3 linked regions of the Homo sapiens genome follow. The protein of the gene in region 1 purifies or fractionates together with the protein of each later gene. This does not show direct contact. Each region holds a gene or a part of one and is shown on either strand. Other genes may lie near its edges.

The links.
Region 2: the proteins of ICMT (region 1) and OXSR1 purify together in Homo sapiens (affinity purification with mass spectrometry; 2 studies listed by BioGRID and IntAct, with this or other methods). This does not show direct contact.
Region 3: the proteins of ICMT (region 1) and GCA purify together in Homo sapiens (affinity purification with mass spectrometry; 2 studies listed by BioGRID and IntAct, with this or other methods). This does not show direct contact.

Annotation. Positions count from the first base shown.
Region 1 is NC_000001.11:6,220,661-6,225,965, reverse strand, and holds the end of ICMT (protein-S-isoprenylcysteine O-methyltransferase), read left to right. Parts: intron 1-703; coding exon 704-886; 3' UTR 887-4,773; downstream 4,774-5,305. UniProt on the Homo sapiens protein: Catalyzes the post-translational methylation of isoprenylated C-terminal cysteine residues.
Region 2 is NC_000003.12:38,245,504-38,252,536, forward strand, and holds part of OXSR1 (serine/threonine-protein kinase OSR1), read left to right. Parts: intron 1-571; coding exon 572-718; intron 719-2,164; coding exon 2,165-2,229; intron 2,230-4,462; coding exon 4,463-4,515; intron 4,516-5,899; coding exon 5,900-5,968; intron 5,969-6,824; coding exon 6,825-6,889; intron 6,890-7,033. UniProt on the Homo sapiens protein: Effector serine/threonine-protein kinase component of the WNK-SPAK/OSR1 kinase cascade, which is involved in various processes, such as ion transport, response to hypertonic stress and blood pressure.
Region 3 is NC_000002.12:162,354,099-162,361,131, forward strand, and holds part of GCA (grancalcin), read left to right. Parts: intron 1-2,339; coding exon 2,340-2,383; intron 2,384-2,659; coding exon 2,660-2,807; intron 2,808-4,945; coding exon 4,946-5,059; intron 5,060-5,395; coding exon 5,396-5,454; intron 5,455-6,118; coding exon 6,119-6,145; 3' UTR 6,146-7,033. UniProt on the Homo sapiens protein: Calcium-binding protein that may play a role in the adhesion of neutrophils to fibronectin. May play a role in the formation of focal adhesions.

The sequences.
Region 1 (5,305 bases):
GGAGAATCACTTGAGCCCAAGCAGTTAAGGCTGCAGTGAGCCATGATCACGCCACTGCACTCCACGTGACAGAGTGACAATCTGTCTCGGGGGAAAAAAAAGAGGCAAAGTGGGCACAGCGTGGGGAGGGCAGGAGACTGGGGAAGTGGGCGAAGTGCTGCTCTTCTGGGGTTGGAAACCCAGACTCAGGGGGTGGGGTTCAGTCTCTGGAGCTCTCTGAGCGTGGAGGTAATCTGCTGGAAGGGGCATTTCGGAAGCTGAGTTTTGTGGCACTGTATCTCGTGCTGAAGCAGAGGCTGTGGGTTTAGGAGGCAGAGGCCCAGGCAGCTGTGGTGTAAGCGAATGCATTTGTGGTGGGAGGGTCCTGGGCAGGAAGGCAGCGTGCATGGGACCTCATGTTGGGGAGCTCACACCTGGAGGTGGGGGGCATTGCTGTCACCCCAAGCTGAGGGTTGAAATCCAAGAGGTTGATCTTGTGATTTACAGATCTCTCTCATGTAAGAGGAGCAACAGGAAAGCACGTGAGAAAGGCCTGCAGCACTGAGTGCTCAGGGCTAAGGTGACAGTACTGCTCCCAGAGACCCTGACGGTCTCAGCAGGGCATGGGCACAGAAATCCTCTGGGTATTAGAGACAGACGCCTACCAAAGCACAGGGCGTCATCCCACGGTCACCCTGATGAGCCTGGTGTCTCCCTCTGTTAGGTGATGCTGTGTAACCCCATCTGCGGCGTCAGCTATGCCCTGACAGTGTGGCGATTCTTCCGCGATCGAACAGAAGAAGAAGAAATCTCACTAATTCACTTTTTTGGAGAGGAGTACCTGGAGTATAAGAAGAGGGTGCCCACGGGCCTGCCTTTCATAAAGGGGGTCAAGGTGGACCTGTGACGGGCAGTGGCCCCGGTGACCTTGGGGCCTCCGACCCTGTGCAGCCTGGGACAAAACTGTTTCCGGTTGGCCGCTGCCACATGGATTTTCTTAATCGTTTTATGTCATTAGTCACTCTTCTGGAATGTCACTCAAGACCAAGCGGTCAGAAGGCCTGAGGACCCAAGGCCCCACTGGAGCAGTCTGTCCTTATGCCGAATCAAGGCGGAACATGGGTGAAAGACGAGTAAGGGGCAAATCACAGCAATATTCCACAGCGCCCTCCAGAGTTACCTGGGGAGGACCGAGGCCACACGCCACTGCCCCCGAGGCCAGAGTGTAAGTAAAGGATAACCAGGACTCGCTGGGAGAGATGGACTCTGTCCTCAGCAACACTCCACAGCAGAAAGGGGTAGCAGGTACCCCTTCTTATCAGCGGTAAAAATGCATTTACAACCTTTCATTTAACCGAAAAACACAGACCGCTTTAACCTCTTTATTTCTGTCCCCCACTGCATGAACATCTATACAATTTTAAAAATACTTCCTCATAGGATGCTTTGGCCCTTCATCTATTTAATCATAGCTACATACCTATTTTTTATAAGTAGCAGTACACATTCAAAGGGGTATTCCTAGCTCAATGCTTGGTGTTCTAGTTCAACTTTTATCCTGCAGCAAGTAAGCCTAGATAACTCTACACGATTTGGCTGAGTGGCTTTGTGTGACCGTGGCCCCAGGCCAAGGGGATCATGGCCCTGGCTGGCTTTCCCGGGGGTCTCAGCTCCTGTTGTCAGTGATAGGCGGCTCAAAGGAGCATCAGTTTCTTTTGATCCAAGAAGTGCTTACTGAATGCCTGCCCTGTGCGTGGCCTTAAACATTGAGAAGTGCTGCTCTCCGTTTATTTGGGATTTGATTCTCATTTTACCATAGCTTATATTCTCAATTTCAATGCCAGTCTCAGAACTCTTGTTTTCTGTGTTCTGTTCTCAAAATTACATTGTCCCTCATGTCATTTCAAACTGTTTTCCAAAGGGATTTGAGCATATACAACTACAAATCCAAGCAGATTGACTCTCAAAAATAATCTTAAATACTGCAAATAGTCCCAACTAAGATTCAGTCAGTATGTTTGTTTTGCAAGTTTGGGAGAGTAAGTTGGCTTTGAGTCACACATCGAAGCTTTAAGAGGTGAGACGCTGGCTTCATTCTGGACTAGACAGGAACTTGGCCTCAGCGTGAGATCCTGCCATGCAGTGTTGCGGTGGCACTGAAGAAGTGTGAATGTGAAGGCGGCGTCGGCGCGGGGCCAGAGCACCACTCTGCTGCCCCACCACGCGGCCTGTGAGGAGCCACTAAACCTTTCCGTGCCTAGACCTCCCCATCTGTGGAATGGGGTCAATACCACCTACCTCACAGGGGTGTTGTGAGGACTGAGAAGAACAATGTCAAATGTTTTTAATACTCAGATGTGGGAGCGACATCAATGAAATCTGTACTGTATGAAAGCTACACAAAAATGGGCAGACATTTGGTTAATTGTGCCAGATACCTAAAATGTATGTTCAGAAAAGCATTTTATCAACTCAGAAATATGACTTATTTCTAGATTTCATGGCTTAATGAATTTTTTCATTGTTATATATACCAAAGAGGCTTACGGGTTCATTGATTGGTTTGAAAACCAGACAGACGGCCGGGCGCGGTGGCTCACGCCTGTAATCCCAGCAATTTGGGAGGCCAAGGCGGGTGGATCATGAGGTCAGGCGTTCGAGACCAGCCTGGCCAACATGATAAAACCCCGTCTCTACTAAAAATACAAAAAAATAGCTGGGCGTGCTGGCGGGTGCCTGTAATCCCAGCTACTCAGGAGGCTGAGACAGGAGAATCCTTTGAACCCAGGAGGCGGAGGTTGCAGTGAGTTGAGATCGGGCCTTTGCACTTCAGTCTGGGCAACAGGGCGAGACTCCATCTCAAAAAACAACAACAACAACAAAAAAAACCGGACGGACTTGCCCATCGGCCCTCACGACACGCGTGCAGTGGGACTCTAGCCAAGGCGGTGGCCGAGCCATCATTACAATTTTTCTGGAGTAAAGGATCCACGGTGGGACATCAACTGGCACTTACTCTGTTTAGGAACTTGAGTTGAATCATTTCTAAACTTGTCCTTTAGACCACGCCTAGGGCAGCAAATTCCACTTCCTAGAACTGCAAACCGGGAGAGGATGTAGTTAGATTCTGGCATCCTGCCCCGGCTCTTTGAGGGAAAAGTTCTTTCCCCTGCTCTAAGTAGGGCGGGCCCAGCCTCCATTCCCATTGGGAGCCATGAAGTTGTCTTGTTGATAGGTCTAGGGCAGCTGTTGGCAGCTGCTGGCCTTGTGGATGGTAAGCTGACTGTGTTGGCATTTAATGCCATCCTCCATCTGCCAGAGGCCCAGGAAGCCCACCTTCACACCAGGCCCACCAGCTGGAAGGAGCCCAGGAGGCAGGTCTTAGGGTTTCATGGTGAAATGCTGTCTGACACCAGGGAAAACTTGACGTACTCTGCTTTGGAGAGGAATTCCAGGGGTAGGGATGGTGGGAGAACATTCCCACCCTGTTTATAATCCCAGAGCAGAAGTCAGCAATTACTTAGGGATAAAAGATGAACTCCATTTTTTTTATTTTCTTAAGACAGTCTTGCTCTGTGGCCCAGGCTGGAGGCTGGAGTGCAGTGGCACCATTTCGGCTCACCGCAACCTCTGCCTCCCGGGTTCAAGCGATTCTCCTGCCTCAGCCTCCTGAGTAGCTGGGATTACAGGCTTGGGCCACCATGCCCAGCTAATTTTTTTGTATTTTTAGTAGAGACGGGGTTTCACCATGATGGCCAGGCTGGTCTCGAACTCCTGACCTCAAGTGATCCACGCGCCTCGGCCTCCCAAAGTGCTGGGATTACAGGCGTGAGCCACCACGCCCAGCCAAGATGAACTCCTTAAGGACAGGATTTGGTAAGTGATTGACTTCTTTTTAGTTCCATGATCTTGAGATTATTTTTAGCTTTATAAATTTAGCAGTGGCAGGGCCCGTGGAGAATCAGGTTAATGAGGTAAAGGCTTTCTGGGTATTTGCTGCCAAGGCCACATCACCAATTTTCTCGATTTAAAAAACTGTCAAGAGATTTATTTTTCCATTGCAGGTTTTAAAGTGGAGATTCTGAAGTGGAAAATAGGTACTGTCAGAACAAAGCTACCTGGAAACAGCATAGAGTGAAGCCTTTCGTGAGGGCTTGCAGGCCGCTGCTGAGTGGCAGTTTACAGAAGAGGTCGCGGGGTGAGCCTCTTAGCAGGACAGAAAACAAGGCAGCAGCGCACCTGCCACCCCTTCACGAGCTGCTCCTTGAGCCTAAAAAGTAGGCTTTATTCATCCCTTCTGTTCATTTACCAACCTGGGGGATTGATACGACCGGGGAAAATGTTCCTAAACCAGGAAGCTGCGTTAGCCGATCAGGCTTTGTAAGATCTCGCCAACAGCTAGCTGCTTAGGAGTACCCCCACGATACGCACAGCACACCACTGTCCCTTCACTGCACTTTCTTCCTGCCTTAGGTAGTTGGGCTTGCCCACCCTAGTTTGCTTTTGTAGTGGTTTGGCAAGGTTAGAAGGCCTCGGCCTCTCTGTCATGCTGGGAAGTGCCTACTCTCTGGGCCACTGCTGCAGAGGCCGTGGCACTTGTCATGGGTTTGGAAGACCCAGCCATCTGCAGCAGAGGCAGCCTATCCCATTGCAAGGAGAGGAACTGAACGGAGTAATTATTCTACTCTTCTTTTTACATAAATGTTTATTTAAATATTCTAAATTGGATTTTCTTTCACAGATACTGATTATTCTTTCCAGTTCTTAAATAAAACTGCACTTGATTTCACTCAACCACAGTGTGATTGTCTGGGATGTGAAACTCTGAGGTCACTCTTGGGTAAGAAGCGTCTTAAGCCTTTAGCCTCAAACGACGTGTGTTTGGCCTCCTCAATTTCTTTCTGAATTCCTACCTCTAACCAGTTGTAATGATAATTCCTTTTGCCCTGCAGGCCACCACATAGGTTTGTAAGGCCTTGGAACAGGAGCCTCAGTGCCCCTGAAGTAGCAGGTGCAGGGACAGTGGACGTCAATGTGAGTGATGTGTTATGTGTTGAATGTGCTGCCATGTTAGCACGTAGACCCATTTGCTGTTAATCACTGAATCAAGCTGAATATTTGCTTAAATGTGACTATCTGGGCATCATTTTGCCACAAAAACTTGTAAAATTTTACGTCACGTGGGTTACTTTTTAAAAAGCATTTATTAAGCTCCTCTAAATGAAAAGGATACTGTGGAGAAATGGAAAACTGCTGGGAAAAAACTACTAGAAAAAAGGTTGCTGCCACCCAGTGCCTTGCTATCAACGGAAGTCGGACTCAGGAG
Region 2 (7,033 bases), on another chromosome or scaffold:
TAGCTTCTGTAATTTTGTATTACATACTTAAATCTGTATTTTGGAGGTGCTGTTTTGCTGGGCAAAGGAATGGAATAGATTTTGTTAAAGATAAATATAATGCAAACTGAAGACAGACACAAAAGACTATATATTATATGATTCCATTTATATGAAATATCCAGAAAAGCAAATTTATAGAAATTAGGATCAGTTGTTGCCTATGGCTGGGTGTGGAAGCAGGAACTAACTATAGGCATGAGAGGACTTTTTGGGGGTGATGGAAGTGTTCTAAAACGATTGTGGTGATGGTTGCACAATTCTATATATGGTACAAAAATCGCCAAATTGTACAGTTACAGTGGGTAAATGTAGAGAAATATAAATTATACCTCACAGAGTTGTTAAAAGTTTAAAAGCCTAGAAATATTTGACTTCCGTTTGGAATAGATATATTCGGAGTAGACACAAAACCTGTACACTACCCAAAAACTACTTTGAAAATATCACCCTGAAAGGCTGAACTTGCTGTCAGCAGACCTGCCTCCCTTTCCACACAACTTAAGCAACACTGTGTGTGTTTTTGTTACAGCTCTTTCCAACAACTGATCCTGTGGGTACTTTGCTCCAAGTTCCAGAACAGATCTCTGCTCATCTACCTCAGCCAGCTGGGCAGATTGCTACACAGCCAACTCAAGTCTCTCTCCCACCCACCGCAGAGCCAGCAAAAACAGCTCAGGTAAAGCCGGGGATATGGTTTCATGGTCACTCCTTTGGATAGATGAAAAGAGCAGATATTAACGTGGAATATAACCTAATGTAATCAGGTTAATGTCTTGGTAGATTTTGAAACAAGTTAGAAATTCTGTCTTCACATTTTTAAGCATGTACAGGTAAGAGAATTTTACAAGGATCACATGCAGGTTTTTAAGCAACAGAATAAGTTAATGATGGAAATATTTCAAACATCAAAAATTTTGGGCTAATTTCTTGTCAGCTTTGTATTAGATAATTACATTTAACTTCAGAATGCAGCTCATGAAGTTCAACAGAGACTAGGAGAATCGATGGCTGTACTGTTTTTGTTGTTGTTGTTCACTCAGGCTTATACTTTTTATTAATACTCTTTGTTTTCTGTGGTTTTTCTCTATTACTCTTTTTAAGTTATTTGTCAATTTTGTGAGGGTTGGTTTGTTAAGTCCGGGTATTATAATCTGTAAATCATTTATCCAGGTGCACACAAACTTTATTAAATCATACTTCATTGAGAGCAGCCAAGTGAATGAAGGCCCCGTAGTGGGCTGCTACATGCTGTGTAACTCCTTCTCTCCCTTCAATAAACCTCAGACACTGCATACAACATGTGGCCCTATGGTACATGGTTAAAGTAAGACTTTCAACGTCCATTTATTAAATATTAGAAGTTCCATTTTCTTGTCTAACGTTTTAGATGAAAAGAAATATAAATTAAAGGTCTGATTTTTTTTTTTTTCTTTTGCACCCCAGTAGATCATCTCGTGTTCTGCCTTTGGAGATCACTGCTTTGAGCATTTCCAATTAGTCATGGCACTTACTTCATTTAACTTTGCATCCCTCAAGCTTTCCATTTCTGCTTGGCATATGGGAAAAGATACAGTTGTCTTAGGAAAATTGATGGAAAAATTAGATTCATTTTATAAACAACTTAAATCGAATGCATGTCCTCCCATAAGCAAGCGCTGTACAATTTTCAGAGAGGATTAGTTTAGCCATAAAAAGACTGGAACCTATGTATGGGTTGGATGGATTTCTGAAGGGCAGCTGGTTCAGGGTCTACCTTTTGTACTGCCATATGGTGCACTGGCAGATTTTTTAAAAATGAGAAACCTAGCTTTGTGTTTTTCAGTCTTGTAGAGGGGAACAGGGGTCTCAGAAATATAAAATGTAAATGTGGCTATATGTGAAATTTCATCTGGGCTTGAGAGTTTTCTTTCTCATTGTGTTGGACTTAAACTGACATTCAGCTTTTGTTGCTGCCTTGGAGTGCATGTCCTCCTCCAGCAGGGAATGTCCTGGGGATTAGTATGACCTCAGCTGGAGATGAAGAAAATTGCTGCCAAGTAAATGATTCCTCTGCCAGTGACCATTAGTCACCTCCCCACTTAATGTTTCAGGCAATGACTGTATACCTTTCAATGCTTTTTAGGCTTTGTCTTCAGGATCAGGTTCACAAGAAACCAAGATCCCAATCAGTCTAGTACTAAGATTAAGGTAAGTAGACATTTTTTGTTTTGTTTTCTTTTGTTTTCTGAATATTCTGCATGTGCTGTAATAGTCTGTGCCTGAGAGTAACTGGATAGGATTGTATGTCCTCCAGCATCAAGCTCTGTTTGCTTGGTGGTGTATTATTTTTCCCCAGAAATAATAGCAACAGTGTGAGGACCTGCATGTTAGCAGGTGTTGTGACTAACTGATGCACATGTTCTCTCAGTTGTTTCTGTGCTAATTGGTGATGAGTTTGTGTATTTACAGTGTAGCTAGTTTGGGTTAGGAGGTGTAGCCTGTAATTGAGGAACAGTTTTTAGGGGAGCAGCACTAACTGGCTTATCTGAAGATCAGTCTTATAATTGTGACGAGGTAAACTCTGAGATCAACTAACCCAAGAGGGGAGCACTTTTTGATTGTGGTAGATCAAATAAAGGCCTTGTTTTTAGAAGGTTAAAAGGAAACTTCTAAATGTTTTTGTAGTCTGTTTCTGTTTTGCAGCAAGTACCCTAAATTGGTGGTTCTTGGTGGGAACATATAGAGAGGTCCTGACAGATTGCTCAGCAGGAAGTGCCATAGGTAGCAGTCTGTTCATTTTAACTCCCTGCCCCGCCCCCCCCGCCCCTAGCACTAGTAGCTGGATTCAAATTCCAGAGCTTTCTTGTCAGAATCACTATGGCTGTTGTATTGCTCTAGTTAGGTCTCTTTCTACTCATAAATGCATTTGAAAAAAAATTAGTATTAAAGTATCACTTGAGGCAACTCAGGCCTTTTAAAACTATTACTAACATTTTAAAAAAGAGTTCCACTGAATTACCATTAACTCATTCCCCTTGCACATATAAATTCCTAGTCATCTTTCTGTAAGGTCCTAATTGGAGATAGAGGCAGCAAGAGCTATTTAAGAGAATGTGGTAAGGAGAATCTCATTGCTCCTTGCCACTAGGAGCAATGCATTTATGCCATAAATGTGAAAAACATATTTGGTTACCTTTCCTTTACAGAAGCCTACTTAGTATACCTGGTCTCATCTCAAAAATTCTGAGTTACTAGGATGTCTTGACAACTTCATGCTGTTTTAAATCTACATAAAGAATAACACTTTAAGAAAATTATTGTGAAATGTATTAAGCACAGACTATGTATAGCACTCTTCGGTACTGTGGAAAGGTGGATACTGAGAAAAGAGAAAATTAAATGACTCCCTTAATAATCAAGTCTAGGTTGGAAGTTGATTTGAACTATGTACTTACACAGCTAAAAGCAAATTTCAGGTAGTATATACATGCAGAAGTATAAGTTTGTATGTACCTGTGTAGAAAGAACGCAATGCAAGGGAAAATCATTTGGGGCATGTTATATTTGAGATGGGTAGTTCTATTTTAAGCACAATTTCAGTAACATCCTCAAGTATATTATTCATCAAATAGAAGTAAACCCTCTCCATTATTTATATAAAATAGATTTGAGTCCTAAGTGAGCAGGCATATCTGCCCTTAGATATAGTGTTCTCATTTCTCTGTCTTTAAACAAAACCTCCAGGGATCCTGCTTAATCTCAGTGCATGGTGTGATCATCACTGTAACTGTACCTCACCAGTCAGGTTTGAATTTCTGGAGTCATATAGTAACTCTGCTACCAGTATGGACCCAATTCCTTTCCCTATCCTCTCTGCCTACCTAAATCCTGCATATCTGTTAAGTCCTATATAAAAACTACCTCTAAAATTTTTCCTTATTATCCCCATCTCTCATATATTCTTTGAATTCCTATGGAATTTGAGGGAGTATCATGTATTTCATTTTATGAGTCTGCCAAGACTGATCACCAGAGGTAGGCAATGAATTGTGGGCATGTAGGAGTGGGGATAAGGATGAAAAAGGCATCCTGTATCATTTTAATCACACCTCCCTGTGCTCATACAATTTTCCTCTTAGTTTTATATGTTCTTGGTGTGGGAATAAGGATGGGAGTGGGCATATAAGAATCTACTCAAAGGCATGAAATTTTTATATTGATCAGTAAGGGACATAGATTCAAAGGGTTGTAGGACAATTAGATGGTCATTCCGAATTGGTTTTGCTCTGAGCTCTGCAGTGTGAACATATCTGAATACATCATATGATCTATGGGAACAAAACAGACTTTCTTGAGGCACAGCTTTCTTAATATATGTTGGCAGAATCTCTTTGCATAAATTTAGAAATTCTTATTTTATGCATTCTGCTTTCTTTCATAGGAATTCCAAAAAAGAACTAAATGATATTCGATTTGAATTTACTCCTGGGAGAGGTGAGGCATCAAATGGATTGAAAACAAAATAGCTTCCAATTTGTGATTCAATGAAATGTGTTGTGAAGTTTCTGTCCTTTGTGAAGTTTTGCTTTTAAAGGATAATAAAAATTTTCCTGGTTTTGGCGAGTATATGAGTGAGATAAAAATGCAGTTCGTTGACTACTAAACACATTTAGAAAACCTTGTATAATAATACAAACAGTAATAAATATATGATAGCTCTTTACAGCTTACTATAGGCCAGGCATTGTCTTAAGCGTTATCTTATTAAATTCTCACAGCAGTCTACTAAGGAAAAATTATTATCCCCATAGTATCGATGATGAAATCAAGACTTAAAGGCAAAGTAACTTGTTCAAGGTCACACAGCTGGAAAGAGGTATAGCTGGAATTCAAACCAGATCTGTCAGAATCCAAAGTTCATTCTTTATACATGGTTGTTCTCCATGATGGTAAAGAAACAAGGTCTGCAGTCTCCTCTCTCCTCAGACAGAAGCTGAGGTCTGTCATGTACTGTTTCTGGCTGTTGAACTTCACCTTGAACAAGGTGTGTTTTGTTTCTTGCCTTTATTACTCAGTGTTCTAATTTGGGGAGTAGCCAGCAAGTATCTGTTCTGTGTATCATGCTTATTCTTCTTGCTGTCTCACTATCATGAGCAACTAACCACTAAAGAGAAAAGATGCAGGTGTACAGAGGTGTCACCTGTTTTACTTTTTAAACACCAGGCAACATCACATTTTCAGGAATTAATTCAAATTGCTGGTTGCCTGTGTGAATGTGTGGACACTGTCTCCACCGCAGTCCTCCTGTTCCCTCTGAGGGGCTCATTTTCAAGCCCTTGGCAACCAATACCACTGAGTTGGTTGAAGATGAGGTTAATTGGGGATATTCTGTCCTCATCTTTTTAGTTTCTGGTTATACCCATTGCTCAGATTGTACCACCTGGAATAACTAGATAAGAAGAAAAGCCCACCAGAATAAAAAAGTAAATGATTTTAGCAAAAAACTTGGAGTATGATTCCCAAAGAGAAGAGACAAAAATTTTTTGAGACAAAAATTGTTGCCTTAGTTTTTGAGAATAAATCATTCTGGTTTTTTAGCCCTAGAGATGTTCAGTATTCAACATCATGTCTCAGATATTTGCTACCTGGTTTATACAGATTCTGCCCTCTAGCTAGATCTGTGAGAATTCCACTTGAGATAATCTCAGTGGTAGGAAAAGTCTTTGTATGGAAGGAAGGCCCTGCCTGCCTTCTTGGTTCTGTGGATTTAGCATCCAGCTTGGGCCTAGCATGGCACACTGACACCCACATGAGCTGTGAGAGTTAACAGTGGCAAGCACGCACAAAAAACAGAGCACTGTCTTCTTTGTCCTTGCAGATACAGCAGAGGGTGTCTCTCAGGAACTCATTTCTGCTGGCCTGGTCGACGGAAGGGATTTAGTAATAGGTAACTCCATTGCGTTCTGCTCATGTGCTCCTGTGTCTCTGTCTGTATACTTAGTACATAGAAAAGCAGGTTTTTTATTCCACTGAGTAGGTCTGATGGTTCTTGAAATGGTTCTTGGCTTTCCTGAAATTATAGGTAATGGGACAGTTCCTTACACACACACAAAATTTCACCTCTGAGTTTGCTTTGTGACCTCCAATGATGGTAAGTGAAAGCACACCCAAGGTCTTTAGGAGATTAATAGAAATTATGGCAAAAGTCACAAGTTAAAGTAAGCTTGGCCATATCTGATCTGTTTTGGATACCTAATTTTTGTGGCCCAAGTTGAGCAAAAGTCATTAGAGATTTAGTACTAGAAAAGCAGGAAGGAAGAGAGAAGGCCCAGTGAGGCCACAGGTCCATGTTACTGAAGGAAAAGACCATGTCCTTAGACACAGTTTTCCGTGAAAAACCAGATAATAAATAGTTTAGGCCTTGCGGGCCATGTACAGTGTCTGTCACTTTTAAACCACTCTTAGCTTGCCGGAGAACAAAAACAGACCACAGGCTGGTTTGTTGACTTCTGGCCTTGGGCTTTCTGATCCATAAATCAGGAAATCATACCTCTTTTACCTGCATGTTTTTCCTAGGTTAATACAACATTTTAAAGAAAGTTAATTTGACAGTGGTTCAAGGTGTACTACTCAGAAATGAGTTTAAAAGACACTTTCATTAGGGGAGTGATTATTTGATCTGTCTGCTTCCATTTTGATTGTACGGAGCATATTCTTAACTACCATTTAAGCTTTTAAAATATGGTTGAAAGTGGATTTATGTAACTTCTCATTCATTACCTTCTCTGTTTGTATGATTACAGTGGCAGCTAATTTGCAGAAAATTGTGGAAGAACCTCAGTCAAATCGATCTGTCACTTTCAAACTGGTACTCATCCCTTCTTCCTTGTGAAAACATCTTGCCTTTTATACACTGGCAGCTTCTCCAGACCAGCTTCTATATCCCCTGAGTGATGAGAATATTAAAATGTGGTGGATTGTGTTCATTTAGCCTCCCCAGTGCCCTGGGCTG
Region 3 (7,033 bases), on another chromosome or scaffold:
TTGTTTTTTCTCCTCATTTTGCTTGTTTTGGTTGTCTTTCATGTTAGGTGCTTTTCTCAGTTATCTGATGATACTGCTTTGCTCTTATTTTAACTAAATTGCTGATTAGAAGCCCTGAGATCATGGTTAGGCATTGATTGTGGGCTTCACTGTATGGTGATTTGGCTGGGCAGTTTTGTCTTGGAACTCTGGGTGTCAGTATCTTTAGGGATTCCCTTTTGGACTGGGTTTTCAGTTGACCTTCTGCCTGGAAAGGAGAGGTGGACTCAGAAGGGTTCTCAAATCTTTTGTAAATTGTCCTTTAATTGCCTTGCTTTTAGAAGATAGCCCTGTCTCAGCTCTGGTATCTTACATTTCAGAGACTCCTCCAGAGAATAAAATTCCAGATTTCTGCTGGGTTGGAAGTAGGTGTAGCATCCATCCAACTGAACCGAGGCAGGGAGGGGATATGAGGCTTAGAATGCTCCTTAGGTAGACATTCAGCCAATTCTTCTGTTTTTATCTCCACTTTCACACCCACTTTCAGAAGTACTGCCAATTCTTTGGCATTTGGGGTCTTCTCCAAGGGTTGCTTCTCAGCTTTTCTCATTACAAGTTCAGGAATCCATTTTCTCAGATCTAGGTTGGTTAACTCACATCCATCAGCTCTTCAACTTGCAAAATTTTGTTACTTTGTTTCCTGTCTAATTCTCTTTTTCTCTAAAGTTTTATGCCTTAAATCAGTTTACTCTCCATTCTAATGGGCTATGGGGAGGAAGTGAAAAATCTGTCAACTTTCCTGAAAAGTCTGTCTCTCCACTCTTTGTCCTAAATATTTCTTCTTATACATACACATTCCTATTCTGAGATTGAAGATCTGCTCATTTGCTGATTCAGTTTTAGCGATCTATTATCATTAATTCGGATTCTCCCACTTTATGAATGTGTGCCAAGTTAATTGTAAAGCAAAATAGATATTATTTACTTGCCCAAAAGAGGAAATACCATTCCAGAAATTTCTCATGTAATCCCCTCACTCTGACAGTTGTATAGCCTTAGCTTTGTAAACGTGGGGAACTGCCTTTCTGGGTCCCAGTTTCTTCCTTTTTTACAATTGGAACTATTATACGTTTAGCATGTTTATGTGAAATCATGTAACACACGCCACCTTACTCATGCTAAGAACACATTGAGTATCTATTGAGTTGTCAATTTGAAAATACTACAACCAACAATTCTAACATTGATACTATATTAAACATTTAAAGAAAATCAGCAATTTTAACTCTTGGAATGTCTTATAATTTTTTCTTTAGTGGGTCTAAAATTTAGCTGAAATAATTTTCTGCTTTTATAAAATGTTAAGATGTTATGGATAAAATAATTTTGAAAATTTTCATTCATTCATATTAACAAGCTGCTATTAAGCACTTTGTAAATTTAAACTGTACTAACGTGATGTTTTCTTTATCAGGGCATGAAATTAGTCTTGAGATATGTCAGCATACAAATTGAATGTAATTGGATTAGAAAAATTAGAAAAGGATTAGAAAAATTGAATTTTATCAATAGGTCATCAGTTGTAGTTCTATAAATATGAAAGTGTTAATATTTCAAATCACCCCTGGTTTTAAGATAGCTTGTATTGATTTTTTCTTCCTTTTTTCTCCCCCCAACCCCCGAGAAAAACCAGTTGCTTCAATTCAGATGCTCATTTTTTCTTACTTGGTCTATTACAATAAATTACCAATGGACTTACCTATTTCCAATATCATCTCACTTTATATTTTATTCATTGTAAACTAAGTTTCTAAAATGGAAATTTTAGAATTTCCCTTCTGCTTCTGAAAACACTTCAGTGGCTTTTCATTGGCCCAAACTTTTTGGGGGTAGTATTCAAAAGTTTCATGATTTGGCCCTCATTTGCCTTTCTGATGTCATCATATGTCACTCTCTCCCATATACTTTAATGCAAGTTTTGTGATCTCTGAGTACATGTCAAACTTCTACTTTAACTCCACTTGTCATTTGTGTTATGAAGACTGGAAGCCTTCCTTTTCCCCAGGCTTGGGTGAAGCCAAGTGCTTTACATACCTGGAATGTCTTTGTCACAGTAATTTTCAGTTAGTTTGTAATTGCTCATTTAATTAACTTAGTCCCCTCACTAGATGTGAGTACTTTGAAGGCAGTAATTTTTTTTAAACAATGGGTGCTTAACATTCAATAATAGCTTGTTGATTGTGGTGATTTTATATATTTTGGCAGTTTTTTAATGTTTTATTTTGAAACTGGAGATTGTCATAATTTTACATAGATAAAGTTGGGCATACTCTAATTTAAATATTGAATATGTTTTACAGCCTTCAGTTTGGAAACCTGCAGAATTATGATTGCCATGTTGGATGTATCCTTGAATAGAAATAGAAAATACTAGAATAAAGAGTAATTGCTTTCTGACTATCAAGCCAGTGGTTAGATTTCAGTGCCTGTAGTAAACTAGTGAATTTAAAAATACTTTGTAAGATCCTGTTTAAATTCTAGGCTTTCTAGTTTTTATGCAGAAGTCTGTTCATATAATGAGTTTGGCTAAGTCTACAGAAGCATACTCATGTTTTAGTCAATGATTTAGAGTCAGATAAACTCAGGTATCAGAATTTATTTTTGTTAATAAAACTATCAGAGAGATCACACAGGAAAAATGGGATTTAATGCATTCAAAGAGCTATGGGCAGCTCTTAATGCCTGGAAGGAAAACTTCATGACTGTTGATCAAGATGGAAGTGGCACAGTAGAACATCATGAGTTGCGTCAAGCCATTGGTCTTATGGGTAAGAACATTAACATTCTTTAGAATCTATAAAGCTAATCTTTGTTCTTTGATTAGATGAACTTAATTGCTTCAATTTACTAACTAATAAAGGGATGTATTTTTTTGCCAGCAAGTTCCTTTGTTTGTTTTCAAGGTTGTAGGTAAATTCTGACCAAAGACCTCAACAAAACCATTTTAATTATGATTTTTTTCAAAAGATGATCTTCCATACATGCATACATTCTGAATTTCTTCTGTTGTGTTTAAATTTATTTCTTTGTTAGTACTTACCAGTTAGATTGTATTCTTTTATAACTTGGCAGGATATCTAATTGGGAGCCAAAGCTTGCCTCAGTCAGTCAAAAGTCTGTACAAAATAGGTTTTCAGTGGTAGAAACCATGTTTTTGTCTTTTTTTTCTTAGATAGTGCAGAACACATAGCAGGTGCCAAAATACATCAGGATGGAAAGGTTGCATTTTAGAGTAATTTAGAAGTATATAACTTTATTCTTATACCTCTGATAAGCTGATGTTCCTAGTGTACTTTTAAAATGGATAACATACAATGGTGTTTAATTTGCTTAAACTTAATGCAGTTTTAAGTAGCTTTATGAATTGTTCTTATGCTTGTGATTTACACTCTTCTAAACAAAATCTATTTGTATGAAAATTAATTTTTTGGAAGTTAAAATCTGAACCCAATGGAAGTGGGCTTATCTCAAATTGCAATTTAAATAAGTCAAATTAGTGATTTGTTTGGTTTTGTTTTATAAATAGACATTTTAATTTAGTAGTAGGGACAGTCCAGCCCATATAAACATATGTAGTTCAATTATAGATCCTTAATACCTAATGGATTAAACCTGGACCTTAATTCAGCCTAATGTTGGGAAATTAATGTAATCTTTGGCAGAAAAGAAAACCTCCAGAGTTCCCGTTAGGCAGTGGAATGTAAAAAGGGTATTCTGGATTATCCAAATTTAAGATCTTCATGTATATTTTAAAATATTCAAATTATTTTTCTGAGAATACTATGGGAAAATCTAGGAATTTTATCAGTACCACATTTAGCTCATAACTCTCTAATATGAAGTTCAAAATATATTTGCATATAATTACATTAGTTTGCATGTTTTACTGCTTCTTTCAATTTATACCTTTCCCACATTACATTCTATTATAGCTGCATGTATAATTTTCTCCTGTTACATTTATTTTGGTTGTTTTCACCTTTGAATTGATTAGTGTCATTTGTTCAAGTCTACAAATCCAGTAATGTATGGGCAATAATACTGGGCTACCATTCTTCTTAGTAAAATGTATACATCTCATTAAATGCATAGGACCATCTATAAGGGTACAGCAAGTAGAATATATTAATTTATGTTTTTATTCAGTTGTATTCGTTTTAAATTTTAGATTTTATGTATTTTTTAAAATAGGAGTAATCAAACAATAATACATGTATAGAATTTAAAATTAATTTAAACATACTGGGAGTGAATGATCAAAAACTTCTTTCTCATTGATATAAGTAAAAATCAAAGATTTTGGACATCACAGGACTACTGAACAAAGAACCAAGGAAATCAGTGAAATAGCGAGAAAGCTGTTATTATTATTACAGTGTATGAAGAAACACTAAGAATTCCAGGACAAAAAAGAATGTTTTTCTGTTTTTTTCCCCTGTAGAGTAATCATGTTGATCCTCAAATTTCTCTTAGTTATAAAAGATACTTGCAAGTAATATGTTCAGTGGGAAATATCATTTGAATAACAAAGATCATTAGTAATCTTTGCATTTATATTCTTTAAGAACTATACAAAGTTACATACTTGAAATATTGAAGCATTAAAACCCATGAAATTAGACATTATTTCAAAATAACAATATATGATAAATTCATAAGAAGAGAATTATTTTCTTTTCCTTAGCTTTGACTTTATTACAAAGTTAGAATTGTGATATTTATATACCGATTAACAGGATTAACAGTGAAGCCTTTGTCTGATGAATTTCAATATTCATGTGTTTTGTTTCTAATTATATTTTTGTGGAATGAATTTTGAAAGTTATTTTATGACTTAATGAGAAAGCAATCTTGCAGTGTTCTTATGTTATTTACATTTAGAAGTTTTAATTTATCTCTTTTTTAGGTTATAGGTTGAGTCCTCAAACATTAACTACTATTGTTAAACGTTATAGCAAGAATGGCAGAATTTTCTTTGATGATTATGTTGCTTGCTGTGTGAAGCTTCGAGCATTGACAGGTATTGACTATTTAAAACTAAGTGCACAGTGTTATGTAGCTATTTTTCTTGAATAATGTGTCTCATTTCCTCCAGCAAGTTTATAATAATATGTGTTTTCTCCCTTTATTCACTGTTAAATCTAATTAGTTTAAAGGCTTCAAATATTAAGGAATATAAATGATAAAAACGTTATGTTATTTTTGGAAGTTTTTCTCATATCTCTGTTGCCAGGGCTATTCAATCACTTAATATTTAATTGAATATGAAATTATTCTTTTTGTGTACCTGGGTGCACTAAATATTTGAAACTATGTATTTTAAATTACAATAAAAAAGTAATTTCTTTGTTTAAAGATTTCTTTAGGAAAAGAGACCACTTGCAACAAGGGTCTGCGAATTTCATATATGACGATGTGAGTATCCTGCTTTTGATATTTATACTGCATTCTAGATAGTTCTCAGTTAGTAAAAAAATTTAAGTGATCCCAAGTACCAGTACTGGAAATAATATATTTGGTATGCCACATACTTTTCCATATTTTTCAGTGTAACACAAATATAAGATTAATATTGGTATAGGTGCCAAACAATTTGACTTCATGTTAAATTGTAAATATGCTTTTCAATTTTTATGACAGGTTTTTTGAATTAAAAAAAAAATGATCTTTCAAATCACTTTTAAGGGCCAAAACCACCATTATTTTTAAAAAGGGTAGTTTACTGTAGTGATATTTTTTCTCAGGGAGGGAAAAATTTTAATCCGTGACGGATTATGAAGCTGTTCATTTCTCATTTCAAATGGTTACTATTAACCTGATATTCAGGGTTTTTTAAAATTCAAGGTATAAGACAGTTATATTTACCTGTGCTTTAATGTTTCAGGGTTTTTGTTTTGTTTTTCTTATATTTACTGATGGAAGTTATGGGGTCAACATTACTGATATTTATTGGCTTGAATTATAAGCCTTGGAAACAAACTTTTCTCTCTTAAGAAAATGCTCTTATGGAATATAATTAGTCAAAAATAATTAAAAACCATTTTATTCTTAATAGATAATAATTTCACTTATGTATTAGTTTTTGCAGGGCACTATGGCAATTTGAATGCTTAGAATTTTAAACCTGAAGAGACACTGTGAATTCTTTTGTTTGGAAGAAGTGAACTGGACTACTTTAAAACTTTTAAGGGTTTTCTATGTTCTTCCTACCTGTTAAACCTCTTCCCTTTCTGTGTGTTTTTATTTTAGCAGATAGTTCAAAGCAATAAAAGATTTCTTTTTTAATTTGAGGTATTACTGCTTTTGGAAAAGTTATTTTATAAATATGTGCATATTGTCATAAAATATTGTATGATTAATTGATTTAAATAATGCTTAGCCTTAATTTTAGATAATGTAAATTTAGAGGAATGTACTTTACAAGATAGATTGTATAAGAAGCCAAATAATGAAAGCCTAGAAAAAACTAATTTATACTTATCTGAAGGTTACAAATTAGACTTTTAAATTTTCTTTGTAGTTGGTGGTGTTTGAGGGTTGGCTAGAAATGAAAGCCTGGATTTTGTGCCATGTTTGTAATATAGTTTGTTCCTTGATCAAATAATCAGAGAAAAGAAACTTAAAGATCTTTGTCTGTGAAGAAGAAAATTATCTCCCTAGTTCAATCTGTAGTGAAATAAGACTACAGAAGGCATTGTTTTTTCCTTTTTTATTTTTTGTATTATATATTTTTCTTAAATATGTTTTATTGTCTTCTCTAAGCAAAAAGTTCTTAATAAACATAGTATTTCTCTCTGCGTCCTATTTCATTAGTGAAGACATAGTTCACCTAAAATGGCATCCTGCTCTGAATCTAGACTTTTTAGAAATGGCATATGTTTTTGATGATATGTCAACATTCAAAATTGTCCTAATTAAATTGTTGTTTAAATGTAATGTCAACTCTTTATAAACTTAAAAATAAACAAGTAATTAACCACTCTAATTGTTCAGA